Regions from separate parts of the Homo sapiens genome. Here region 1 is linked to region 2. The links come from fine-mapping of genetic effects on gene expression. A gene starts in region 2. The other region holds a variant in brackets. All regions are shown on one strand. Distances are between the middles of the regions.

Region 1 (5,375 bases), 84 kb after region 2:
TTTCAAGTTTATGGTCTTACAGTTCTGTAGGTTAGAAACTTCTAGGTTAGAAGTCCAACACAAGTCTCACTGGGCTAAACTCAAGGTTTTGGCAGAGCTGCATTTTTGTTCTGGAGGCTCTAGGGGAATATCCATTTCCTTTCCTTTTCCAGCTTCTAGAAGCTGCCCACATTCCTTGGCTCATGATGCTATTCCTCCATCATTAAAGCTGTTGAGTCCTTCTCATGCTGACATCTCTCTGGTTCTATCAATTCCTTCTCCCACTTTTAAGAACCGTTGTGATGGCATTGAGCCCAACCAGACAATCCAGAATAATCTCCCTGTTTAATGTCAGCTGATTCATAAGTTAATTCCATCCACAACTTTAATTCTTTATCATGTAACCAAACATAGTCCTAGTGTCTGGGCATGAAGTGTAGACATTTTGGAGGGAGCATTATTCTGCCTACCAGAAGCTCCTTAAATTGACAGCCCAGTTCTCTCTTCTCCTCAATGTGGTTAAGCAGATGTGACTAAGAGTGTGGGCTCTGGCGTCAGACTGCCTGTGTTCAAATCCTCTTTCTGATGAATGTTTCATCTGGTAGTGGGAATAAGAATGGTACCTTCTTTATAGGGATCTTATAAGGATGTTACATTTAAAAAAGAAATACCTACAAACAGAATGTCCCAACTTGGATCTTCTTTCTCCAGGTTGTTGGGATAAAAGAAGGAGGGAAAGAGAGAAAAAGAAGGAAGAAAGAAGGCAGGGAGAAAGAGAGGGAGAGAGGGAAAGAGAACAGGCAGTGGGCAATACTGAGTTGTACCCTCAGGACATGAATTATGCCAGTTAGACGCTAAATTCCCTGCGGGCTGTATTGATTTTTCTGTGTACCAGTGACATGGAGTACTAGTTTTTAAAGAAAACTTAGTGACACTGTTTTATTGCAAACCAAACCCCCTTTAGAGGCATCGCTAAGGGATTATCTAAATATCTTCCTCATACAAAGTCAGGGCTGGAAGTAAGTGGGTATAATTGGAATTGTTATTATGCAGCATGTTATTGGATTAGATTGTTTTCAGTTGTACTTTTCGCATTTTTATGTGGTTTTCGTTTTACTCTTGTCCCATTTCACTTCATTCCCTTGGAGTTCTATCCTACACATGTGCCTATTTAAGGAATGGACACAAACAGGGGGTGTGGAGAATGTTGCGGTCAAGGGAAAGGGTGGATATTTTTTGTTTGTTTTAAGAATGAACAAACATAGGGAAATCCTGCCCTGAACAGGAAACCCTGCTAACCTGAACAGTGTAGCTTGCTAACATTCTGACAGGAGTTTTGGACTGTAGGGGTGTCTCAGGCTTCAGGGAGCCTGGGAACTTTCTCATAGGTTAGAAAGCAGCTAGTTTCAGGCGAATGATCCAGGGGGAGAGCATACACTCAGAGCTCAGAATGACTGCTGTCATGTAGGCTGACTTCACTGGGATTTCATTCAGAACCTGAGATTGAAGCCTGCAGGGATTTGGAAACACCCATACTGTCAGGTTTCTGTATGTTATAGACTGCAGTTAGCCTCCAAGGGTATTTATGCGCTCAGGTAACTAAGAAGAACAGAATTAGATTTGTCTTTAGGCTTCGTTGGATCCAGCTTCTCTGATATTATCATCTGGACTCTTTCTATCCCCCAGAACCCCTTTTTCTCTGTTGACTTCATTCTCCAGCCAACTCTTTACCACAAGGGCAGTATAGACACCAGTCACTCCAGGATCCCAGTGGAAAGAGAGCTTCTCTCTTCCAATAATTTCAGCAGATGTCCCAGGGCTGGTTCTCATTGGCCTTTACAGGTCACATGGCTGTTGTTTAGCAGAGTACTGTGGCCACAACTTCAGCCTCACACAAATGAGAATGCAGAAGGGTTGGTACCCAAGAGAATATCAAATAGCTGGTGTTAGAGGAAAGAGGAAAGAAGATGACCACTGGATCCACTCTGACATGAAGAAGGCACTCAGTTATGGGCCTTAGGTTCCAAGAAACACCTTAGCCTCAGTTTCCTTCACCCCCCTCCTTTCTGCCCCCAACACACACACACACAAAGCGTGAGAATACTTACCATGGAGGGTTGGTGAGGATGGCGTGATATTGGGAAAACCCTTAGCATAGTGCCTACATATCGTAACATACTCAATAACTGTGAGCACCCTTCTTCATCCTTTTTTTTTTTTTTTTTTGACTTGAATATAGAGTGTCTGATAAGCCTGTAAGTAGTATCACAAGCAGTATTTCTAGGCTTTCATTGTAAAGTTTAGGGTTGAAATCTGGGTGTTGAAATTTCAAAGTTCCACCCTTTGATGATATAGACTAATTATTCTTTATTATATTTACAGTATGCAGGCATGACACAGGTTTCAAAAGCACTTTCCCATTCTTCTTTAATAATCACAATTATGATCATAACAGTTAACATGCACTGAGATCCTACGATGTGCCAGTCCGTATTCTAAGTACCTTGCATAGATCATCTCATTTAATCCTCACAACCCACCTATGAGGTAAATGCTATAATTATCCCCACTCTACTGAGGAGGAATTAAAGTACAGACAGGTTAATGTGCTCCGAGTCACACAGCTATTGGAAGAGATAGGATTTAAACCCAAACATTTTGTCCCTTAAACTTACCTTCCCAACACATGGCCCTGTTTCTCAATGCATGTGCACTGTCTCTGTTTAAAGTAAGGGAAATCATTTCCTAAGGAGTGATGCAAGTCAAGCTGTTTGCTGGGAGTTCTCTAATATCCTTGTTGTTTATATCTCCTAGGTGTTTTTCCAGGTCTGACCATCTTGCCCTCCACATGAAGAGACATATCTAAAAAACCGAAAGGCCAGAGTTGCCATGGCATCGGCTAGTGTCTAAAGGAAACGCCATGAGGCAGGGGGCTGGACTTCAGGCGGGGACCCATTGCCTCGCAGAAGAAAGTTCTCACTTATAAACCTCTGTACACACACACACACACACACACA[T/CACAT]ATACACACACTCACAGACCCACACACATACACACTGTCATGCACTCAACTATATTTAAAATATATACGTCTATTCTTTATGCCTTGCCCTAGCCAGATGGAAGAAGATGAAGAAGGAAACCAGGTGAACTCAGCAAGGCAGACTGGCTGCTTACTTCAGCACTATTGGAATTATTTCCCGCTGTTGCCAATGGAAATCAAAGAAAATGGATGTGACGTCTGTGCAGGTGGACGGCAGTCCGAGGGGCTTATTTCACTTGCTTCTCAGTGCAACTTGATAGGAGAATCCAGCATCTTAAAGTTGCATATGTGTAGCACTAATGTTTCTTTTTAAATAGTTGGGGGAAAATGACCTAGAAAACCAAATTGCAGTTTGGTAGCCAAAATTAACTCTTGGTTTATTTGTCCTTTGTGTGTGAAAAGTCCTACTATTCCGTGCGTCAGACTTCCTCACAGAACTGTTGACTGGTTTTGGTTCTTAGTACTATTGAGATCTTTCGCGTCGATCCCAACGGCCTTAGCGGCGGCAGACTGGAATAACACCTTACACCTTTCTGGCCTGCATTTCTGTAGACTTCACTCTCAAGGGAGGAGTTTTCTTTTCTTACGTTTTGACTTTTGCACACCATATGCACTAGGGATTCTGGAAACTTCTAGCATGACTGCAAAGTGGCCAAGAGAATAAAGTCCTTGATGATAAATCACAGTATATCCCTTGAGCCTCACCTTATTGCCAGTGCTAGATTTTTTCTTTTTAATCTCTCCGTTTTTGCTAACGAAAACTTGAAAAGCTTATTTGGAAGCTTAAATGTTTTATCTTTTCTCCATGGACTAAACCTCTCCAGGACTCTCTCGGCACCTGGATGTCCAGCTCTCGAAGCAGCCAGTCAGATGGGACATCACAGTTCTCTCATCCTCCTTGAGGCATGATGACCTCAGCTCATAGTGATCAACCGTTGTGCTGTGTGTCATTGCTACCCCATAACCAGTTACAGCATAGATGTCGCTAGTCTCAGAGGGCAGCTGCGTATTTAATTTAACTCTGGTTTATGACCTGACAAAAAGCCAAAAATATCACTCTTTCCAGGAGTGGGGAAAACTGAGGATGCCTCCCAAGTCTAGTGGCTTCACAAAAGATCATCCTGTCTTCTCTGTCATGCCCACTGAGCTCCTATTCCCCTACGTGTTACAATACACAATTTAAAACGCCATTGTGGGAGTGAAGGGTTGACATTTAAGGAAAAGGTTGAGGTGTTTCTCTCATGGGCTGTCTAAAAGGAGAGACACGTTTCTTTCTTTCCTTTTTTTTTTGGCTAGGCCCACCATGACTTGTGACCTAGAACCCCCAGGATTAACAGAGGCCTCACATTTACTCTGCAAGCTGACTCCAAAGGAGTCTACAGTCCTTACTTGTCATGCCACACTCACACATCCAGTAGTGGTCTCTATCTACCCGCATTCCTAGCTAGCTGGCACTGGCCTCAACTCCAAAGACTGCCTTTAGGACCATCAAATGGCCTATGCAAGCAAGCGGGGTGGTTATTAGGACAGATTGTATATTTTGTATATTCTGGGACCATCCCTTCAAGACACGTCTATAAAACAAAAATGGCGCTTGGTCCACACACGGTTGCTGCTCCCTCCTACCAGCTGGCTCCCCTCCTGTCCTCCTTTGACTGTTTGACTCATTGACTGTTAAAATGCCACCCCATACATATTTGGGATGCAAAACTGAAGTCAAAAGGAAATAATATAAGAAACACAAACACATATATGACAGCAACCTTCAAGATCTGGGTTTTCAGCTTTCTGCAACCTTTGTTTTCACTGAAATGTTGAAACTACTCGTCTGAGGGCAAAGGAACCTCCTCACAAATGCTATAGCTGCCAATTGGACACTTGGGGCATTTCGAGGTCTGGCCCTAAGAATTTACTTTCTCCTTTTCCTTTTTTCTATTTAGACCAAAAAAAACAAAAACAAAAACAAAAAAAAAAACAAAATAATACAAAACGAAAAAAAAAGAAAGAACACCCGTTAACACACACGCGCACACACACACAAAATCTGTCCATTTGCCGGAGGCAATTGTATGTATGTTAGTTGGAGGGTATTAAAAATCAGTTTTATTCCAAAGATTTAAAACTAGACATGACTTAAAAACAATTTCTGGAGCACTGCTTGCTGACAATCTCGTAGTTCTCTGCTGCATTTGAGTGCATTTTGTGGCCAGTCCATCAGGGCGTACCATGGGATTATATTTGAATGTGTGGTGCATCCTTCCTGGATGAAGGATGTGTGAGGGACCTTGAACCTCAGCTGTATTAAACTGTAGCGCCTCCAGTCAGTGCACTAGATGAAACTTTTAGACACCCTGAATT
Region 2 (5,375 bases):
ACCGATATGTCCTATTTTATTCAAAAATTGTTATAATGTAACACACACAAAATAAGTTCACTTGAGTCTCAAGTACCAAATTATATGGTTGGTCTTGCCTCACCTTTTGCCTCTAGTTTTCTATACCCAAGTTCCTTTCCTTCCCCTATTATTCATGAACATGTTTTTTGCCCTAGTGTTTCTCAATGGTTCCTGCCCATCCCCCCAGTTGAAATAGCATGGGGGTCAGGGGAGAGCATGGAGAAGGGGAGACCTTGTAACAAACTAGCAAGGGGTTTCTACCTTTCCTCTATCTCCAAGATTCTATTAATAGTATATTCTCCTAAAGGTCCTATTAGTTTACATAGCTCAAGTGGGGAGACAATGATAGCTAATATTTAGTATTCACCTAATAGTGTCAGATACTATGCTAGGTGAGTTACCAAAGATATTTTGACTCTTCATAACAACTAGACAACGCGGATCCCACTATTTCTGTTTCTGAGATGGGTAGATACAAGTTCTGACCCAGTAATTCGCTCAAAGTCGTGCAGCTAGTTAGCTGGCAGCGTCCTTGCACATCTAATTGCAGATGCATCTGCATCTACATTAGAGTAAATGTTCCAATTATACTCATACAATGAATGCTATGAATCTGGCCAACAGAATTCCAGACACTAACAAGTAAATAAATCAGGCTTTCCTCAATCCCAGTAATTCATGTTTAATATTCCTTGGCAAATACTGAATTTCAATCTGTGCTTATTTCATAGAGTAGAATCTTTCAAATGTTGTGTTATCGAGTCCTACATAGTCAAAGGGAGGGGAAAGACAAGGAGGGTGATTAAGGTGAAGCGTTTCTTCCATTACTGGTAGAACGAAGTTTCTCATCTCTTAAGCACCGAATTCTGCAATCATTCCAAAAGTGGAAGCTCAGCTCACAGCGCATTTTGGGGAAGCTTAAACCACACTAACCATTTAAGGTCAAGCAAACAATTGGCCAACCCTAACGTGAATTGTGCAGGGTTTTCATCTCAGATGTAACAGATCTCTCTATGTCTACATCCCAACTCCAGAAAACGAGAAATCGAGTTCCTCCTCTCACCATCGAAGCTCTGCAGACACCTCGCTGGAGACCCCATGGTGAGCCTCATCACGTAAAGGCCCCCTCGCAAGCTGCCGGCTCCAGCTTGCGCCCCACGTCTACCTAGGCTCCCTCTAGCCTCTTTAACGCACAGTCGAGCAACAGGCCCCTTGCAATCAACTCTAGCCGCCGGACTCCCGACCAGGTCTCTCGCTCGGGGTCAGAAGGAGGCGCGGGAGGGAGGGCGGCGGCGGCGGCGCCCGCGGGGCGGGGCGGGGACTGTGCGCAAGCGGGGGGCGGGCGCAGGCCGCGGTCTCGCTCCGCTCCCCTTTGTTCTCTCCCATTGTGTGGCACTTCCTCCTCAGGCGCTTCTTCTCTGCACCCTGGCAGCCCGTGGGGAGTTCGGGAAGGGGCCCTGGATGCCTTTTCTGCTTGTTTTTGAGTACGTGAGGACCTCCCCGGCACCGCCTCGCGCGGGTCCCTGCCCCGTGCCCAGGCGGAGGCGGGGTGGCCACTGTCCTTCCTTCCCGCTCCGCGCCCTCGGCGGCTTCCCCGCGGCCCCCTGCGCCGCGCCCCCTCCAGGAGGCGTCCTGACCCCGCACTCCGGCCTTTCACCTCCCGACCGTCAGCCTCAGGGCCGCCGCGGCGACGCGCGACCCCTTCCCTCTGAGGGGCGCGGGCTCCGGACGCGCCGGGCTCTGCCAGGCATCTAGTGGAGGGTCGGAGGTCGGCGACCAGCCCGAGCCCAGCCGTCCCGGGAGCTGGCGCGAGTGTCGCCACGACCCTCCCTGTCCCTTGCGCTCGCGCTGCCCGGCCGCCGGGCGGCCGCCTCAGCCCCCTTATATAGCCCTCTAAAAATAGCTCGCCTCGCACCGCCTTGTAAGGCAGCAGGGAGATCCGCAGCGTGCCAATCCGCGCCCGCCGCCAGGGCCAAGCCCCGCCCCAGGCTCTGCTCCGGGCTCCCCATTGGTCCTCAGTGACTTCATGAGCCCCCTGTTTACCTTACATGGTCACACGCGGCCTAATGGACGCCCTCCTCGAGATCCCACGGCTGCGCGGAGAACCGAACGGAGGGAGGGAGTTTGGGGAGGGGGAAGAGCAGGAGGAGGAGAAAAGGGAGGGGGAAGACTACAAACTAGCAAGGATGGGGTGGGGGGTGGGGAGGGAAGGGAAGGGGGGGGAAGAGAAGCGATCGCGAGAGAAAAAAATGCAACCTCCCAAAATAAAGAGCAAAGATTGCATTAGGAGCGAACAGCGCTGCAGAAATAGATGGCAGCTTCGTGTCAGTGAGTTTGCATCCCCCTTCCTGATCCACGAGCTGGAGTGATTAGAGCCCTGGAAGGGAATTGTTACTCCCGTGGAGAAGTCCCCTTTTCCTGGCAGTCGTCTGCACTGTACACGCTGGATGCCTCTCTCCATCCACCCCACTCACTCGCTCCTCTCTCACCTCCTCTCTCCCTCTCCTGCATTGATTTTTTTTTTTCCTTTTTAGTTGACTGAAACAAAACAAAACAAAAGGGCCACTGGATGTCTGCCTTCTTGGGGGGTGAGCCAGACAGACTGACAAACAAACAGCCCCAACTGTGTTCGGGGGAGGGTTTCGCCTCCCGTTTTGCCCGGCAGCAGCAGCATGGACGTGTTGGCTAGTTATAGTATATTCCAGGAGCTACAACTTGTCCACGACACCGGCTACTTCTCAGCTTTACCATCCCTGGAGGAGACCTGGCAGCAGGTGAATGATTTAAATTACTTGTGTAAATCGTGTGGTGGCGGCGGAGACGCAGGGGCTGCGTTGGTGTGGGCTCTGGGTTGAAATTTTTGTTTGTTTGTTTGACTTTTTTTTCTTCCTTTTTGGCTGTCTGTTGTTGAAAATGTTTTCTGAAACAGTCATCTGCGCTTACCTCTCCACCCACCCCTAACCTCGTAGAGTGCCGAGCTGAGCAGCCGGTGCGAGCTGCCTGCGTTTCAGTCGCCAACACACATCCCTGCGCACACGTTGTCGGGTTTGCTGTCCCCTATCAGAGACCTGCCGAACTTCTGGGGTTCGGAGGAGCCGGGTGGGAAGGTGGTTTGGGGTGTTAGGAGCGATTGCTGACAGGGACCACGTTCTCGCATGCATGAGCTCTACCCACTTGATACCTGAAATCAGGTTCATCTGTTTCAACTGGTGCTTATGACCATCGGATGGGGGGCGGGGGAGGGTGGGCAGGAGCAAAGCGGAGTGTTTTTCAGTAATTAGCGAGTGTCAATAAAGAATAGGAGCTTGATTTTGAGATTAGAAGGTAGGCAAAAGAGAGAAGAGCCCACTGACAAAAGATACTCAAGGAGGACGGGAAGATGTAGCTGAGGCTGACAATGAATTGTAGGTTTTCCCAGTGTGATCCCTCCAGAAAGAGAACACCCTCTATGCGTGTCCTTGTTTCTCTTTTTTGTTTAGGGTCCTTCTCTAGTTAGGCAGCACAACCTCGGACAAAGGCTGATGTGTGCTTCCATGCCTTTGACTTTGTCTTAGAGGACTAGTTAAGAAACTCCCAGGATGCTGAAGGGCACCGATGCCAAGTTGGCTAGCCGTCCCAGGGAGGATGAAGTGGGGCTGGTGACAAGTTCACTGGGCTTTGTGAAGTGGAATAAAGAAAGTGCTGGTCAGTGGAAAGTGCTGGCTCTGCTGCGGAAACAGTGGTTTTTTTCAGCAGCGATTAGGAGCTGCTGAGGGGACATTCTGCAGGAAAGATGGTGGGTGGGGGCGGGGGGACACGGGTATTTAAAAATTGTACAGTGTGCACCATGGAAAGTCCAAGAAGACAGTCCGGATTTGCACATAGGAAGTGTGAACTTGTACAGTCCGTCCTGGAGAAACCCGCTTGCCCTTGGGGGGAGGGCTGTGAGAGGCTCGGTGTGTGGCTGCTCGTGTAATTTCTTCGCTTAGTGACAGCAGCTTGTTAAGGCTAATGAACGGCTGAATTTCCTCTGCCGGGATCCAAAGCAGGATTTGCCAGCTTGAGGCTGAGATGTAACAGTCTCTGCTTTAGCAAAAGAGGTTTGGCTTTTGGTATAAGGAGCCGAGTGGCAAGGCGGATCCTTTAACTGTACCATTGTTGCTAGTTCACTTCTGGTCAGAGGCTGTGAGTTTTCCTCCAGGTATTGGCGTCTGGTGTCTCTGTGTCCACACATGCATTCTTGTCCAAGGACGCTAGCAGATGCTTGACTCTGTCTCTCTGTAAACACATACACAGTTCACATATTTTTAGAATAAAGTCTTTCTTCAATGCATCCTTTTCCTTATCCTTAACGAGAGTGTGTCTCATGAAGGGTCTCACTGGATCTTTTTCTTCCTTTTATTTCCAATGCTAATTAAACCAAAATCTTCTGAAATAGCCTTCATTTCACACTGTCAGCCCACTGGTATGGAATCGGTTGCATATTAACAACTGTCTAGACAGGTTAGAGAAGGGAATCTGTTGATTTAGTCAGCCTGCCCAAGGCAGCCCTTGTTTGTGACTAACTGTTAAGCAGTGTTAGAAGGAAGAAAGTTGGCTTTATTTGTTAGAACGTTCCCTACTGATGAATCATGCAACTTTGTTTTGGTTCAAGTTTTCAGAGTAGTAAAGCCAGATTTGGAGGAAGGTCTCTTCACAGGAAACCTGCTTTTCTAGATCTGGCTAGACCATCCAGGACAAACTCTAGATCTGCAAAGAAACATCATCGGTTTGACAACTAGAGGATGTATTAGATCTATTGTTTCCTAAGAAGCCATCTCTGCTCTTCCTTCTCCCCTCCTCCCCCTGCTCCTCTGCCTCCTCCCCATTCAGGGAAGCTCTAGTTTAGTTTCTACAGGCAAAGGATTTTTCACCCCTCGGAACCCCCTCATTTTTTGCCTTAACCCTCTCCAACTGCCAGCCACTCTCACCTTAAAACCCTTAGCCAACTTATTCAGCGTCATGCTTATAGCCAATGCTGATGCATAGCTTGTGGGGAAGCACTAATAAACAATATATCACTCCAGTGAGCTTTATGTTCTGGACTCCGTAATCACAACTGCTCTATATAAAGGCGACTAGGACCATAGGTTTACACTGATGACAAAACCTTTAACCTCTAGCCCTTCCTTCTTCCCCCTCCCAAAACCGTCTTGCTGCTTCTGAGTATAAGGGGTGGTGATGGTGATATGCAACTGTTAGTTCCAAATCAACTATCGGATAATGAAATTTTGAGACTCTTTTGCTCAAAACAGCTCAACAGGGTTTCTGCAAAGAACCCCAGACAGGAAGAAGTTTCTTTATGCTCTGGGGTAATCAGATTTTAGAGGTCAAAT

The links. PIP is the estimated chance that this variant, and not a neighbour inherited with it, causes the effect.
Region 1: its variant is fine-mapped to the expression of KLF7 in whole blood (INTERVAL, PIP above 0.99).

Annotation. Positions count from the first base shown.
Region 1 is chr2:207,078,683-207,084,057 of GRCh38, reverse strand. KLF7 (KLF transcription factor 7) reads left to right here. Exons shown (of 4, transcript NM_003709.4): 4 at 2,794-5,375. The coding sequence ends at 2,845. Among named protein-coding and RNA genes, the nearest start is that of MIR2355, 29 kb to the left of the region's middle. The variant T/CACAT (reference allele first, on the strand shown) is at 2,997.
Region 2 is chr2:207,162,887-207,168,261 of GRCh38, reverse strand. It overlaps KLF7 (KLF transcription factor 7), which reads left to right and starts at 2,314. Exons shown (of 4, transcript NM_003709.4): 1 at 2,314-2,795. The coding sequence starts at 2,694. MIR7845 (microRNA 7845) reads right to left here and starts at 1,862; the gene lies at 1,764-1,862. RefSeq lists silencers at 803-852, 1,473-2,112 and enhancers at 470-1,178, 1,179-1,886, 1,887-2,595, 2,603-2,702, 3,304-4,012 and 1 more.